2 separate regions of the Homo sapiens genome follow, and region 1 is linked to region 2. Evidence: fine-mapped expression QTL. Tissue or cell type: whole blood. Region 2 holds a variant in brackets; the other region holds the start of a gene. All regions are shown on one strand. Distances are between the middles of the regions.

Evidence for each region. PIP is the estimated chance that this variant, and not a neighbour inherited with it, causes the effect.
Region 1: GPSM1 starts here. The variant in region 2 is fine-mapped to the expression of GPSM1 in whole blood (INTERVAL, PIP 0.95).

What each region holds. Positions count from the first base shown.
Region 1 is chr9:136,323,460-136,331,459 of GRCh38, forward strand. GPSM1 (G protein signaling modulator 1) reads left to right here and starts at 4,080. Exons shown (of 14, transcript NM_001145638.3): 1 at 4,080-4,304. The coding sequence starts at 4,237. It overlaps DKFZP434A062 (a long non-coding RNA gene), which reads right to left and starts at 3,864. Exons shown (of 1, transcript NR_026964.3): 1 at 1-3,864. RefSeq lists enhancers at 457-1,083, 1,084-1,712, 4,242-4,771, 4,772-5,300 and a silencer at 2,914-3,208.
Region 2 is chr9:136,434,348-136,442,347 of GRCh38, forward strand. INPP5E (inositol polyphosphate-5-phosphatase E) reads right to left here and starts at 5,498. Exons shown (of 10, transcript NM_019892.6): 1 at 4,261-5,498; 2 at 393-516. The coding sequence starts at 5,072. It overlaps SEC16A (SEC16 homolog A, endoplasmic reticulum export factor), which reads right to left. Exons shown (of 32, transcript NM_014866.2): 32 at 5,758-7,476. The coding sequence ends at 7,408. RefSeq lists enhancers at 1,657-2,165, 3,702-4,335, 4,277-4,386, 4,336-4,970, 4,971-5,604 and silencers at 4,677-5,166, 5,227-5,406, 5,457-5,656. The variant GCCCT/G (reference allele first, on the strand shown) is at 4,250.

The sequences.
Region 1 (8,000 bases), 110 kb before region 2:
TGTGTGCATGTGTGTGTGTGTGCGTGTGTGTGTTTCCCTGGCACTCACAGCATCACCATCTGCCAGGCTGGGTGGGGCGCAGATGAGGAAGACCAAGGAAGTTCCACACGACCTGCCTCGCCATGATGAGTGAGCGTGAGCTGCCTCCTGTGTGCCCTGCCTGCCCAGAGATCCCGGGGACATCACCTGGCTGACAAAGTCTGCAGCTGCCAGCAGTCGGCCAGGAATGCCGCATGGCCAGGTGTCTCATACTGGCGTGGGTGTCGTGCGGCCTCACGCGGCCCTTGAGCTATTTCCAGGTGTGGGTATCATCTCCCAGCGAGGTGCTCAGCCCTGGGGTGGGACAGACCGTTTCCTTCTGGCTCCCTGCAGAGCTTGTGGGCCCCTCCACCCACCCTGCAGTCCCCAAACTCCAGGGACTTGGAGGTCCCCAAGGAAAGGACATGGCAGTGGGAGATGATGTCATGAGGGGACTTGGGCAATGGGGAGGAACACATGGCCAAGCTGGGAGGAAGAATAAGTTCATTCTCAGAGCAACGAGATTATGTGAACATGGTAAACCCAAGTGTTCTTTTTAAGTGAGATTACTGGGAAACAAAGCTGAAACTGTTCCTTCTGTGTGTGTGTGTGTGTGTGTGTGTGTGTGTGTGTGTGTGTGTGTGTTTGGGTGTCCTTCACTGTCTCCCTCCCCACTCCCGGCCTGCTTCTTCCTTCCCCAGCTTGGAATCCACGGTTGAGGCTGGTCAGGAACCATCAGGACCCAGCATGGGTAATGGCAGCTGCTGGTGCCCTAGCCCCCACTGGGTCCTACAGTAGCTGCTTGTTGGGGAAGGGGCCTGAAAAGGTGGGAGCAGAAGGAAGCCAGGGTCTTGGGGCCGTGGGCTGCCACAGCCACCACAGAAACACTCCAACTTCTCCCAGCCCTAGCAAACCAGTGGAGGTGTGTGCTGGTGCTTTGTTCCTGGGGTGGCTTGGGGCCGCCTGGCTGCCTCTCCCGAGCCTGGCCCTCACCCAGGAGGCCACACCAGCCTCGAGTGCCCACCTCCGTCCAGAGCCCCAGCTCCCCACTCCTGGGGGCTGAGCCAAGAACCCTGTGGCTGTCCCACCGTCGCCTCCCAGAGGCTTGTCCGGCGCAACAGGACAAGGAAGGACTAAGGCTTAGAGTCGGCCCGATCAGGTGACGCCTGAGCTGTCACCGCTGTCACCACTTACACACAGGGTGTGTGGACAAAGTGGTGCGTGCCAGGGAGGGCTAAGTGACCGAGGGCAGGCACGTGGCAGGCTCCTGAAGGTGGAGGTGGCGCTGACAATGGCCACCAGTGAGCAGGGCCCTGTGTGTGCTGGGGCTGACTCCAACCCCTTGGCGCTGCCACGCAGGGGCTTGGGAGGGCCCCTCCCCAGGCACATGGGAGGTGGCCCCTCCCTGACCACGGAGCCATCGTGTCTGCAGAGGCCCACCCTGCGCCCTGTGCTGCTGCCTGGGGCCAGAAGAATAAGTCGATGTGAAATGGCTTTTTCTTTCCTCACCCCCCTTTGGGAGTCAGGCCCGTTAGGAATGGAAGGGGCTGTGCTCCTGGTCCCCTGGGGGAGTGAGCTTCCCGGACTCTTGGGGGGATCTGGTAAGGTGGATGGTGGGAGGCTCGAGGGTGTCCAGAGCCTGATGGGAGGGGGTGGCAGTGGAGGGTCATCCCTCCAGGGTCTCCCTTCTGGATGTGGACACCACATGTCAGGCCTGTCACCTGGCCTTGTCACACTCCATCTCTGGGTCCCCTTCATAGGTTTTCTCGACAGGAGAATCAGGTCCCTGGATAGGAGGAGACGCCCCTCTGTGCAGTGTGGTGGGGATGTACCCCCAATCCAGCCAGGACCCACTGCAGGGGCCCAGCAGGGGCAGGCACGAGTGTGAGAGCAACATGACCCCAGCAGCTCTCGCTGTGTGCCAGGCACATGGACACGCACCACACAAACCCCACCGTGTGCCAGGCACACGGACAAGCACCGCACAAACCCCACTGTGAGCCACTAGGCACATGGACAAGCACTGCACAAACCCCACTGTGTGCCAGGCACATGGACAAGCACCGCAGAAACCCCACGCCTCAGTGACCCTCCACACCTTGCGGGACGGGCAGCCCTCAGGTGACAGAACCGAGGCTCAGAGAGGGAAAGCAACTTGTGCCAGGTCACACAGCCTCATAGCCCAGCTCGGCCTAACAAAGCCAGAGCCCTCGGGGGTGCAGGTTTCCCCACAAGTTCTGATATAATGTTGGGGCTCTCCCGGCCCAGGGACACAAGCTCCCAGCTCTCTGCATCAAGGAAGGAGACCAGGAGAAGCTCCCCCAGCAATGACAGCTACGAGGCTGCAAATCTCTCCCTCCCTCCACCATTTGTGCAATGTCTTTTGTCCCCACTTCTCTTCACCAGCCTCCCACCACTAACCCAGGGGACCCACAAGGGGCTCACAGTGTTGGTGTGGACCCTCTGTGGGCCTCCTGATGGCAGCAGCGCCTGGGGAAAGAGGGCTGAGCTGAGGCCTGGCACAGGCAGGGCCCCCAGCAGCCCCTGCCCTTACAATGGGATGCTGGCTCAGGTGCCCGAAGCCCAAAGGAGGTGGCCCGGAAGGTTGGAGCTTCAATCGAAGGCCTGTTCTCTGCCCGCAGCCAGGCCCAGGGCTGTGGCAAAGGAGGGTGGTGCCCCAGCCAACACCACTGTCCCTGCCGGCCAGCAGCCACGGCCCCGGCTGGAAGGGAGCAAGGCTCTGCCTGGCTTCTGTGGTCTTTGGGGGAGGGCACGTGGGCCCAGCAGGCAGCTTGCGCTGCGCTCAGGGCACAGATGGTTCTCATTCCCGTTGCCTCCCTTACACAGGAAAAACAAACCAGCCCGGGGCCAACAGACCCCTTTTTAACCTCGTGTTTATTTTCCTTCCCATGCTTGAAAACGCTGACTGTCCTGTGGGCGGCAGCTGCTGAGGGTCTTGCCAGGACGGCACTTTCCTGACCTCAGGGCAGCTCTCCCAGGGAGGGGCTGGGGTGCACGGAGGGGCCCCGAAGGAATGCAGCCCATTTCCTGCTCCTGGACTTCTCCGAGTCATACCCGGGGTCGCAGCTGCCTTTCAAGGGCCTGGAGTCTCCTGACACCACCGGAAGGCCCAGGATGCTGTCGGGGGCAGGACAGAACCCGGGGAGGCCGGCTGTGGGCCTCGCTGGCTGCGGAGAACCCCCCAAGCCATCGGGAGCTGAGGGTGGGTGGAGGGGAAGCCACGTCACACCACATAGGCCCACAGGGCTCCAAGAATTCAGAGGAGGAGGAGGAGGCGGTAGGGGCTGGGGTCCCGGGACCCCGGGTGGGCACAGCCTACTGTGCCACCTGCATCCTCCCTAAGCCTGCACAGTGCCCAGGAGGAAGGAAGGGGCAGGCTGCATCCCCATTCCGGGGGAGCTTGGGAGGGGAATGTGGCCACCCAGGGTCTCAGAGGTGGGGGGCTTACCAACCGTCCCACAGGCCAAGCAGAGCCTGTATTTGTCATCGGTGCCCCAGGTTTCTCTAAAGCAGGCAGACAGCATCCCCACGGCCTGCGCCCCATGGCCCAAGGCAGAAGTTTGGAGAAGGGGGCAAAGCCACGTTGGGGCTGCACAGAAGAGGAGGGTAGGACCCCCGAGGCGTAGGGCGCCCACCAAGAAAGGCAAGGAGGCCTCAGCAGCCCCTCCCCACGTGGGTGAGGCTGCGGGGCTCACCAGGCGGCCTGTGGATGAAAGGAGCCCAGAGGCCAGTGTGGCTGCACTGTGACCCAGGGACCCCCGCGGGCCCTCAGAAGTCCCCAGGGGACCAGCAGCAAGGCCAGGCCCAGGCCCTCTCCCCTGCATTCCCTGGGGTGGGGTGGGCTGGGGCCCACACCCCCTCCCCCCTCCCCCCTCCCCGGGGACTGCCCGCCTCACGGCGCCCCTCCCCCCGCGTCCGCCCCGCCCCCCGCAGAGGGAGGCACGCGGCGGTGGCCGCCCGGTCCGCGCCCCCTCCCCGCGCGGGCGGCGGTGACATCACGGCCACGGCGGCGGGAGGGGCGGCGGCGCCCCGCGCACATCACTTCCTCGGCGCCTCCCCGGGGGAGGACGGGCGAACGAGGCGCGGACGGACAGGCGGACAGCAGGGCGGACAGCAGGGAGGACAGCAGGGCGGGCAGGGGGCGGACGGCCACGGCGCGGGGGGCGCTCCCGGCTCCCGCTCCCGCGTCCCCGACCCATGGCGGGCCCGGCCCCGCCCGCGGCCGACGAGCTCCCGGGCCCGGCCGCCAGGCGCCTCTACTCCAGGTAGGACGGGCCGGGGCCGGGGCCGGGGCCGGGGCTGGGACCGGACCGGGCCGGGTCGGGACGCGGGGGAGGCTGCAGTTGGGAACAAAGGCAGCTCTCGCGGGCGCGCAGCGTGGCTGAGGACGCGCCCCTCCCTCCAGGCCGAGCCCAGCCCGGCGTGTGCCCGCGTGGGCGTCCCCTGAAGCCCTCTTTCCCCCAAGCCAAGGGGAAGGGGGTGGGGGGCCGGGGGGCTGGAGGCGGGGTGGGCAGCTTCTCCAGCCTCACTCCCCTGGCACCTGGCAGGGGCACCGTGGGGTGCTTCCCTCCCAAGCCTGGCCCTGCCATGCCCGGGGCACTCAGGGGCATCATGGCCAAAGAGACCTGGCTGCTCTGGATGGGGCTCTGCCCCTCACCAGCCCTCCACGAGCCCAGTGGGATCCAGCTGGGTTGGAAGGGAGCCAGCCAGGTGGGTGTGTACCTGCCTGAAAAGGCATCTACTCTCCGGGCACATTCCTGGGTGATCCCAGTGACTGGGCTCTGTGCCCCACGCCTTTGGGGATGACAGGGTGGCCCTGCCCCAGGTGGCATGCCTGCCTGGTGACTCCCAATGTCCCCCCAGGGGCTGCCCTGGGCCCAGCCGGGCAGGTGCCTGGAGCCCCAAGCAAGGCTGGGTGGTACCAGGCCTCAGGCAGAGCCACACGAGCGTGAGGTCCAGGCAGGGGCTTGCGAATGGGTGGCAGCCGTCAGAGGCAGGCCTGGCTCCCCAGAGCGAGGGACACTATTGTCCTCTGGACATCCCTAAAACCTGGTGACCTCCCTGATAGGGGTCCCAGCAGCTGATCCCGGGGGGCGCCTAGCCTGGCCCCCAAGGATTCTCTGGCCCCAGCCAAGCAGCAAGCCTCTGCCTGGGGCACCCGAAATGAGGTACTGGTGGCGGCACGGCGGACAGAGGCCTTGCTGCCTCCGGTCTGCTCTCTGCTTTGGTCCCAGACACAGCCCCATTGTGCCGTCCTGGATGGAGCGCTGAGCCCCTAGCCTGGCTCCTGGGCCCCACGCAGGGGAGGGGCGTGAGGGTGATTTTGCTGGCAGCTGCTGCCAGGGGCCTGCCCTAAAGGATTTTCAAGGGTTTCCTCCGCTGATCTGATCGGCTGTGCAGGGCCGCATGTGCTCCAGGGCGGCCGTGCTGTGAGGGGGATGGATAGCAGCCCTGGCTGGAGTGAGTTTGAGTGTGAGTGTGTGGAGCTGTGAGAGAGTGTGTGTGTGGAGCTGTGAGAGACGGGTGTCCAAGACCTTAGCCTTGGGTGAGGCCTGCACAGCTGACCATAGAGTTGGGCATTCTCCAGGCTACAGCTAGAAGCCTGGGGTCCCCTGGGGACACGCCAGGCAGGAGCCAGCCCCTGGCAGGGGCAGTGCTCAGGGGGACCACTCAGAGAGACCCCAGACCCAGCCTTGCATCCCCCTAAGCAGGGAGTCCAGTTGAGCTCCAGGGTGGAGTCAGGCCCAGACTTGGGGGAAGCGCGCCAAGCCCTCCAGCAGGGCCTGTGACGAGGTCCCCCCGGGAGTCTGCACCCCACCGTGTAGCCACAGCCCGGTTTGGGCAGGCGGTTCCTGGTCGGAGCTGGCTTCAGAGCATGGATGCCTAGACGTGTTCTGGGCCAGTGGAAGCTGCGGGCCAGACGGGAGGGCCCTTTGCTGTCATGCTGGGGCTGGAGAGCAAGACACGGAAAAGTCTCCTGTCTCCTGAAACCCGAGTGCTGGGGGCGGCCCACCTGCTGGCGTGGGCGGTGGGCATGTGGATGCCCTGGAGGTGGGCGGAATCCGTGTGGGCACTCCTCACGTGGCTGTACTGGGGTCCCTCAATGTGGATGGGGCTCCAGGTTGGCCCAAGGTCTCCTCTGCCCCGTCTACTGCCTTCCCACACTGACATTCCTTCCTGGAGAGAGGAGTTTCAGCTTTTAAAATGGGGAACTGTGCCTGGAAAACACACTGACAGCGAGGCCCATGAATGTGCCCATGAGCCCACTGGGTACCCTGAGGGGCCCTGGGTGCTGGGTCGGTGGGGACGGGCCCCTGGGTTCTGGGTCGGTGGGGACGGGGCCCTGGGTGCTGGGTCGGTGGGGACGGGCCCCTGGGTGCTGGGTCGGTGGGGACGGGGCCCTGGGTGCTGGGTCGGTGGGGACGGGCCCCTGGGTGCTGGGTCGGTGGGGACGGGCCCTTGGGTTCTGGGTCAGTGGGGATGGGCCCTGGGTGCTGGGTCGGTGGGGACAGGGCCCTGGGTGCTACAGTTAATGCTCAGAATTCTGGCCCACTTGCCAGGGGCTCCCTGGCCCAGAGCAGGGCTTTGGGGTGAAGAGGCCTGGCGGGGACAGGCCAGTGGCTGAGAAGGCCCCGGAAAGTGGGGAAACCCTGGGTGGTCGTCTCCTGGCCTCCCACCTGCTTTAAGGCCAGCTGAGTGCTCCCCGGGGCTGGGGCCGGGAAGGGGCAGCAGAGCCACCCACCTTGGGGTGACCCTGTTAGAGATGCCCTCCAAGCAGCAGTCACCAGCTCCCAGACAGGACGTCCTCAGGTGTGGACTGGGCCCCCCGCAACCTCTCTGGCCACATGGCCATGCTACCCCCTACCTTCACTCCATCCTTCCTCCCTCCCCTGTCCCCGTCCTGGGCACCATCCCTGGTGGGTCGCTGGGCAGCGACGGGCCCTAGGAATTCCTGGCAAGCCTGACCCCAGGTGCTTCCTACAGCTGGGTGACCTTCAGTCCCCTCTCCAGTGATTCCAGCTCCCGCTGTGCTCCCAGCCCGGTCCTGCGCCTCACTCTCTCCCCTCCCCTGGCCACTGAAGGGGAGTCGGTGTGGTTTTCCCTGGGGGTGTCTGGCTGGGGGATGGGGCAGATAGAGCCAGCTGTGAGCAGAGTCTCTTCAGCATCTGCTCAGGGGCCAGCATGTAGGTGACGGCCTTGGGGAGGGGCAGGTGCCAATTCTGTTAGCAGGGCTGGGACTGAGGGACACGGCTTTCGGGTGGCCGGAGGTAGTAGGAGTTGCAGTGCTGGCTTGGGAACTGGCCTTGGTGATGGCACCCCAGCCACCACGGAGGGTCTGAGGGTTCAGTCTGTTGACGAGGACTGGGCAAGGGAGAGGCATTCTAGGTCCTGCCCCGCCTTTGGCCAAGCTGTCCTGAAGGTGGACAAATGGTCTGGCCTGAGTAGGACCCCTGAGCCCACAAGGCCTCAAGGTAAGGAGGAGAGAGCCCAGGGCCTGAAGACCCCCACCTGTCCTTGGATTCCTGCCTCTGCTCAGACCCCGTGGCCGTCTCAGGGATAAGACCTGCCCCCCCAGTCCCCCGCCTCTGTCAGGTTCCAGCCTCCTCATGGGCCACAGGTGGCTGGAGAAGCTGGGAGCCCAGCTGAGAAGGACGCCGGGGGCTTGGGAAGTTTGAGGAAAGGAGCCAGGCTAGGGGAACGTGGTCCATGCCTCCCAAGCCCCACGACCTGGGGAGCGGCATCCCCCAGGCCCCACGTGGCCCTGACCCCGTCAGACCTGGGGCCCTGTTCGCACCTTGGCCAGTCAGGTGAGGGAGAGCACAGAGGGCCCGGCAGACGTGGGGCTGGCATGGTGAGGACTCTGAGCCCCCCCCCCCCGCTGCCCCATGCTGGCACCGTGGGCTGGTGCCAGGGAGGCTGGGGAGGGGGCCAGGTGGGGTCGGGTGGAGCAGAGGAGGCAC
Region 2 (8,000 bases):
ACGAGTCTGTCCAACGACCACCCCTGTATGACCCTCCCGTCACCATGACCCCAGCCCGTGCTGCCCACCCTGTCCCTGAGCCACCCCTACGCGTGCCCCGCTGGCCGCCCTCCCGCTCACCTTGAGCAGGTGATTCTCGGCCAGGCCCGTTGCCCCAACCCCCTCCCCTACTTTCTGCAGCCACGTGGCCAGGGAGGTGCAGGTGGGAGCTCTGGGGGATGGGGGTCCTTACCCACTCTCACCCTCCTGTACTGCGGTTAGCAGTGGGGTGCACCTCGGGGCTCTGCCCTCCTGGCCCCAGGATGAGGCACAGAGCTGCCCCGTCCCCCTCACCCGCCTTTGTCCAGCACCACCCCACCCTTCCCCGCCCAGCACCACCCACAGCCACTCACCTTCTGGCCCTGCATGTTCCAGGTGGCCACGAAGAGTGCCACGTTCCGGTCTGGGAAGTAGCGGGCCAGCTCATCCGCCCCCAACAGGGCCCCGCTGGCCAGGAGGCTGCCCTCCAGGTAACTCCTGTGACGGGAGGACCCCAAGCTCAGGGCCAGGCACAGGACACATCCCTGGGGGTCTGGGCCAGGTCCCCAGGGACAATAGCAAAACCCATGGAATGTCAGGAGCTGCCCCCAGCCCCAAGCAAGGACTCTCCTGGCCCCCGCGGCACTGCTGTCTGCTCTCCAGGAACACAAGGCCTGACCTGGTTGCACAAACACCCAGAGCGGGTTCACACCCCCTCCCTACCTCCCGGGAAGAGGCATGAGAGGGTGACGGTTTGGGCTTTTTGGTGGTGGGATCCTGGAAAAGCCACAGAGAGGAGCTCCCAAACTATAAGCCAAGGCAGTGGGCACAGGGTGCTGTTCGGGGAGGGGCTGGTCCTCCTCCTTTCTCCTTTGGCCCCAGCACCAGGCAGGACGGTCTAAGATACAGAGACCACACGAGCCACACGGAAACGCGTCCATCTCCTCGACACCCCGTGGCTTTGACGCACTTTTGGGTTTGCTTGTTTTGGTTTCTAGTGGGGACAGGGTCTCACTCCGTGCCCAGGCTGGAGTGCAGTGGCACTAACACAGCTCCCTGCAGCCTCTACCTCCCGGGCTCAAGTGATCCTCCTGCCTCAGCCTCCCGAGTAGCTGGGACTCCAGGTGCAGTGCCACCACGCCCGGCTAGTTATTTATTTATTTTTTATTTTTGTAGAAACAGGGTCTCGCCACGTTGTCCAGGCTGATGCTTTCAGATTTTAATACGGCGGTGCACACAGATGGTTAAACACCGTGTGGCACAGCAACGTCCCTGCCCCTCCCCACACTCAGCACCTTCTGCCACGAGGGCTGGTAACCCGTCAAGAGGCAACCGCACACGCCTGCCGCTCCGTGGGACATCCAGTGTCTGTCGCCGTGGGCTCTGCTACGGTGGTGCAAGAGCCACCAGGGGATGTGGACACAAGGGGTGCAGCCGTGTGCCCGAGACGCTTGATTTACAGACACTGAAATCTGAATTTTACAATTTTCTTGTACTATGAAACATCATTAGAATGGTTTTGACTTTTTCCAACCATTTGGAAATGTAAAACCCGTTCTCAGCTCGCCGACTATACAGAAACGCCGTGGGCTAGGCTTGCCAGCCGTCCTCCCCGCTCCCTCTCTAAGTAACACTTGTGCGGCTCCTTCTGGATACGCCGTCTTCTGACATGGTTCCCTTCCGCAAGGGGACACGAGAGCATAGTGCCGGATTCCTGTGACCTCCCGCGAGAACTTCTTCAACCCTGGCTGCGGCTCACCAAGCTTCACTGGACACGTTAAATCATGTCAGCAGGGAGGAACCTCGCTACCTCACCCCTAAAACTGTCGACAATCCCGGTCGGGACAGCTGTGTTCACACAGTGGTCATTCGGGACAGAGAGCGTTCCTGTGGGCACCCCTGTCAAGTGATCCCGGGCCCAGCAGGGGCTCCTCGGTCACCAGGCTGGAGGCCCACGGCCCCTTTGCCGGCAGCGCCCATCATGTCCACACCAGCAGCCACGTGGTCAGTCTGCCCAGCTCTGTCCAGAGCATGGTTAGTAACAGCAGGCCAGGGGCGGCCCTCACAGCCATTCCTGTGTCTAGACACGGGCAGGGGCAGAGCTGCCTCGGACCCCCATCCAGGGCCAGGACACTGCACAGCTTCTGCATGAGGACGCTCAGGCTGGCTGCCACAGCCTGGGCCAGCTCTCCGAGCAAAAGGAACGGGTGGGGAAAGGCCCCCTAACCCGCCCTGGCAGCCCCAAGGCACTGGCAAAAGCCAGCAGCCATTCTCAAACAGGGCGGACCCAGCCCGTGCACACGCGGCCCGCAAACTCAGAATGGGTTTTACTGTGTGGAACGGCAGAGAAAGAAAAAAGAGCGAGGTTCCAATGTATGTCCCTAATAGACTCACTGGCACACAGACGCCCTTTGGTCCCCACTGTCTGTGTCTCCCCCTTGACAGAAAGAGTGCGCCGACTCCTATTCTAGAACAGACCGGAGGTCTGGAAATGGGAAGCTGTTAGGCAGCAGAACTGGGTTAAAGGATCCACGTCAACCCTCGTTTCCTGGTTGTTTGAAAACAATGACTTGAGGGTCCAAATTTGAGACACGACTGTCCTTTTCTCTAACAGGTGTATCTACGTCAACCGGATCTAATTTTAAAATGTGATGCTTTAGATGCACTAAGAAATCTCACTCTTTACGAGAAGCCCTGCAGTGAATTATTTTAACAAAAGCAGCAGTCTTGCCCTGGATGTGATCGCACCTGCTCCATCCATGACAGGAGGAGAGTATGGTGGGGGCGCCAGGCACGGGCCCTCACTCCAGGCCTGAGCCCACCTGCCTGCTGGTGCACCACAGACGCGGGGAAGTGAGGCTACCTTCGGGGACTGTGGTGAGCTGAACAGTGATCCCCAAAGCCATGTCCACTCCCAGAGCCCCAGAACCTTGGAATGGGACCTTATTCGGAAACGGGGTCTTTGCAAACGTGTTTAATTAAGGATCTCGAGATAAGACCACCCTGGATTTAGGGTAGGCAGTAAATTCAATGACTGGTGTCCTTATAAAAAGAGAGGGGAACACAGAGAGACAGGGAAGAGGCCACATAAAGACAGAGGCAGAGACTGGAGCATGCGGCCACAAGCCAAGGAACAAGTGGGGCCCCAGGAGCGGGAGGCAGCGGGAGGACCCTCCCCTGAGCCTCTGGAGAGAGGCTGCGTGGCCACACCTTGATTTTAGACTTCTGGCCTCTAGAACTGGGAGAGAGTCCAGCTCTGCTGTTGCAAGCCTCCCAGTCTGTGGTCATGAGTTACAACGGCCCCAGGACACCAACACAGAAACCACCTCACACCTCTCCCTTCTCACACCTGTCCTGCCTCCCGCCGCGGCTGACAGACAAGACTTGGGCACCATGGCAGTGGGGTGGGGGGAGGAAAAGAAGGGTGCAGGTGACTCTGCCAAGTCATAGTGGGAGCATCTCAGGACAGGCCCCCAGACTGAGACCCCAAGACAAGACCAGGCTTGGGAGAGGTCATGGGTTCAGCTGCAGTTCCTTCCAGCAACAGCTGGAGCCCACCAAAATGTTCCTCATGAGCAAGTGGCTAAACGAAAGTAGCCTCAACACATCTGGGGCCTCTTGCCGCAGAAAAAAACAAAGGGGGCAGGCCGGGCGCAGTGGCCCACGCCGGGAATCCCAGCACTTTGGGAGGCCGAGGCCAGGAGTTCGAGACCAGCCTCGCCAACACGGCGAAACCCCGCCCCTACTAAAAATACAAAATTTAGCTGGGTGTGGTGGCGGGCGCCTGTAATCCCAGATTCTCAGGAGGCTGCGGCAGGAGGATCCCTTGAACCCAGGAGGCAGAGGTTGCAGTGAGCCGGGATCGCGCCGCTGCACTCCAGCCTGGGCGACAGAGAGAGTAACAAACAAAAACAACCAAAGGGGCGGATCGTATACATTGACGACATTTCCCAAGACTAAACAAGAAAAAGCGCCAGATACGTAATTGTATGCAGGATGCCATCCTGTCTACCTTAACACAACGTCACGCCCACGAATGGTTCTGAAACGCACAGGAAAAGTTCTGGGAAGGGCGCTGCTGTGGGGTGGGGCTGGGAGATGGGGTGGCTGCGGGAGACCCGCTTCGTTCTTTCCGGTTAGGCATCTTAAACGCTGCTGATGGGAACGGTCTCACGAGGTTCCAGCAGCCTGAACACTACAACGAAGGCGGCGCGGGCGCTGCACCCGCCAG[GCCCT/G]CCCTACCTGCTGCGGACGTCCTTGCTGCGGATGGGCGCCAGGAGGCTGAAGGAGGATTTGGCCGAGCGAAGGGAACAGTCGTCGCAGGCCAGGGGGCTCCGCGGCCGGCCGGGGCCCAGGCTGCTGTGGGCCCGCACCAGGAGCGGCTGCGCGCGGAGCTTGTAGTCTGCAAGATCCGAGTCGACCTTGTTTGCTGTCCTCAGGGAGTCGGAGGCGATGTCCAGGCTCAGGGCAGGCGGTGGGCGCGGGGGCAGCAGGCTGGGCAGCCTGGGCGAGCTCCCCGCCACGGCGGCGTCTCTGTGCGGGAGGTTCGGGGAGCTGCTGGCCACCCCAGAGAGAGGGTTACCCCCCGAGGACGGGCTCCCTCTCTCACTGCTCAGGACCCCGCGGGACTTGGGGATTTCCTGCAAGGAGGTGCTCAGGCAGGGCGGGGAGCAGCTGTGGGCGGGGGCCCCGGGGCCCTCGCTCTGCACTGAGCCCCTGGAGGGACTGGTCCCATTCCGGGCTTCCAGGTCCTCCTGGCTGCCTCGAAAACGCCTCCTCCTCCAGCCCTTGTCGTCCAGGGACAGGGCTCGCTCCAGTCGAGGCCTGGCGGGGGGCCGCGGGGCGATGGGTGCTGCTCGGGCTGGCGGGTCCTCGCCGCTGGGCGTGGCCGGAGTGCTGCAGGCAAGCGCGGGGCTCTCGGAGCCCGGAGCATCGGGTGGGGACCCCGCGCGCTGGGCCGGCGGAGCGCCGGGAAGCTGTCCTTGGAGCGTCCTCCCTTCCGGCGGCTGCGGGGCCGGCTCGGAGGGCCGCAGATTCTCCGCCTTGGACGGCATGGACGGTCTCTCCCGGGGCAGGCCTCGGCGCGAGGCCGCAGGCAGCGCGAGGGGTCACGGGTGCCGGGTCCGGGGTCGCCGGCGCAGCGAGGAGCAGAAACGCCGCTGCGGCTCCCGCTTGGGCCGGGGATGGTCGCGGAGGGGCGGGGGCGGCTGCCGCATGGCCCGGGCCCCGAGTCCCGCCAGCCCCTCGGGGCTCCCAGACGCCGTTCCCAGGGCGGTCCGCAGGCAAGGCCTGGGGGAACAGGCGGCTGGGCGCCTGTCGCGGGGGAGGTTCGACCCCGACGGGGACGCCGCTCGGGGAGAGGGGTGGGAAGCGGGCACCCCTGGCTGGGCTCGCAGACTCCGAAGTCGACCCGGTACTCGCGGAGGCCCGGCCGCCCAGAAGCGGAGTCAGCCCGGCCGGGACCCAGCAACCGCCGCCGCGGGGCCGCGCCCGGTCCCCGCCCCGCGCCCCGGCCCCGCCCACAGCGGCCCCTGGCGGCCGGAGGACTGCGCCGCACCGGACCCGGACGGGTCTCCCACGCCCCTCCCAACCCGGCAGCCCCGCAGTCCGGCAGGTCCCAGCGAGGCAGGTGCAGGTCCCCGGAGAGGACCTGGGTGCGGTCCAGGACAGCGCCGAGGCCTGCGGACACCTGCACTCACTCGCTTCCAGCAAACCAAAGGGAACCACAGGTGAAGGTGCTTGAAGGAGCGCAAAATATTTTATTCAACAATTTGCAATGTAACAATTCTCATTTAGGAAAAATAGCCGCTCCCGCCTGGAGGAAGCTTCTTGAATCAAAAGTCGTGGCAGTCGACCCCAGAACAGCGGGCAGAGCCGACCGGAAGAGGTCCCAGGATTCACACGAGCTGACCGAGGGACAGAGAGGGCTGCCCCGTCACAGGGACTGGCCTTTCTCCAAGTGACAAGGACAAATGGATCCAGCGGGACACGCCTGTGGAACATTTTGGAAAACATCCTGGGTGGTCTGGGCTAAATGATCAAGTGAAACAGAAAGCCAGGAAGGATCTGTGCTAATTCCACATTCTACAATTTCTACACTTAAATTTAAAACACCAAACAGTTTGTATTCCTCCAGCAGAACCTACAGAAATTATCTACTGATTTTTATTAGTATTTAAATCTTTTCTTCAGTCTCTTTAGACTTGACAAGAATACGAAGAGTTTCAGAACAGTCAGAGAAGCCTTAAAGCTTTGCATCAGTGAGAGGAGGCCCGTCTCTGAGTTGAACAGGGTTGAGTCCACCAGGAGCTACTCAAAGTCTCAGTGTGGCAAAACTCGGGGCAGAAATACTAAGTTCCAGAGCTGCTGTCAAGAAACTGTGTTAAGATACTCTCCCCAAGTGCTACCAACCTCTGAACCAACGTCCCCCAGGGGAGAAAGTGGGTCATGTGGATTGTACCACGAAAAGTGCTCACGGAAAGTGCAGCCTTTTAGAGAAGTGCATCCAGCTTCCTTAACAGTGAGTCTAACCGTGCTCCTACACACGAAATGAAGCCCAAATCAAACATCACACGGTCAGTTTTCAACCTGGATGACCACCCTGAGCCATCATGTCAGACAGCCGGCTCTCTGGGGCTCCTTCCCAGTGACTGGGCCACACGGTGGGCAGTCCCCAGCGCTTTGGGTACACAAAATCACCCATGGTCCTCATCAGGCCACAGAAAGTAAAGTGAGGCTGGAAGCGTCTTTGCAACAGGAAAGAAATTCACTGCAGTAACTAAGGCCTCTCTCAAAAACCGTGAACTAATGCCGAAGGAACCCCACGGCTCCTCGGAGGCGCTGATTGAGAACACAGCGCCCTCCACTCATTCAGCCAGGTTCAAACACGGCGAGGGCCCAGATGGTGCAGAGCAGGGGTTGGGGTCTGCCTCAGTCACCCTCTCTTTGCTCCCAGCACCTTAAAGGAAGCGCGGGACTCACTGGGCAGTGACTCACAGCTGGGCTTGGAGAGGCCCTGGTTACTACCGACCATGTGGCTCTCCTGTGGCAGAGACAGCTCCGGCTTCAATGAATGAACATTCTTAAATGACCAGGAATACTATATCCTTAAATCATCCTAAATGACTAAGAAAGTCACATCATTCTTTTCGGCAAACAATTCTGAGTCAAAGATTCAGTCTTTCCATCCAGAATCTGAAAGGATGGTGGAATTAATTTTCAAAATAATTCATTACGATGGGCGGTGAGGAGGGAGGCACAGTGTGCGACCAGCTCTGAGTCACTGCTGTGTCTCCCTGGGGGCGGGACGGAGATCGCGGAGGTCGGTCGGGTTCTTCGGGGAGAACAGCAGCGTCAGGGCTCCAAGTGCAAGTTCACAGCAGGGCAAGCCTAGTTCAGCACCAGGTGCTTCCTCTGGCCAATCCTCCCTAGCCTTGAGCTCCCGGAGGTGGCGCAGGCCTGGAATGAAATCAACAGCATGACCTCTGCATGCCTGCCCCCAGGGTGAGCAGTGCTCGGCTGCAGCGTGGCAGGGGCTGGTCCACATAATGAACCACACGGGCCATTGGCGCTGACAAGCTGAAGGCTTCGTTTTTGTTTCCAAAAGCCTCTGGAAACCGACAAGTCAGTGCCAAGTCCTGGGCTCCCTTGAAAGCACTGTATCCTTAACCATCAATGTTTACTGTGAGGGTGGCCAGGAGGTGCCGTGGTTTCATCAGGGCCATGAGACCTGGAGCTGCTCTGCAGAGCCAGCCTGGCTGTCCAGAGTCCAGGGACAAGTGGTGGCCAGGCCTGGCCTACTGCATGGGACGCGGGGACCTCAGTTGCAGACAGCTGGCCAATGCAGGCATCCACTCTTGCTCCCTCGCAAAGCCTCATGGAGGGGAAAGCCAAGGAATTTTTGTAAAGGCACTAACCACATGGTAAAGGGAGCAGGACAATACCAAAATCGACTAGTCTGGATGCTGAAAAGCAGGTGACAG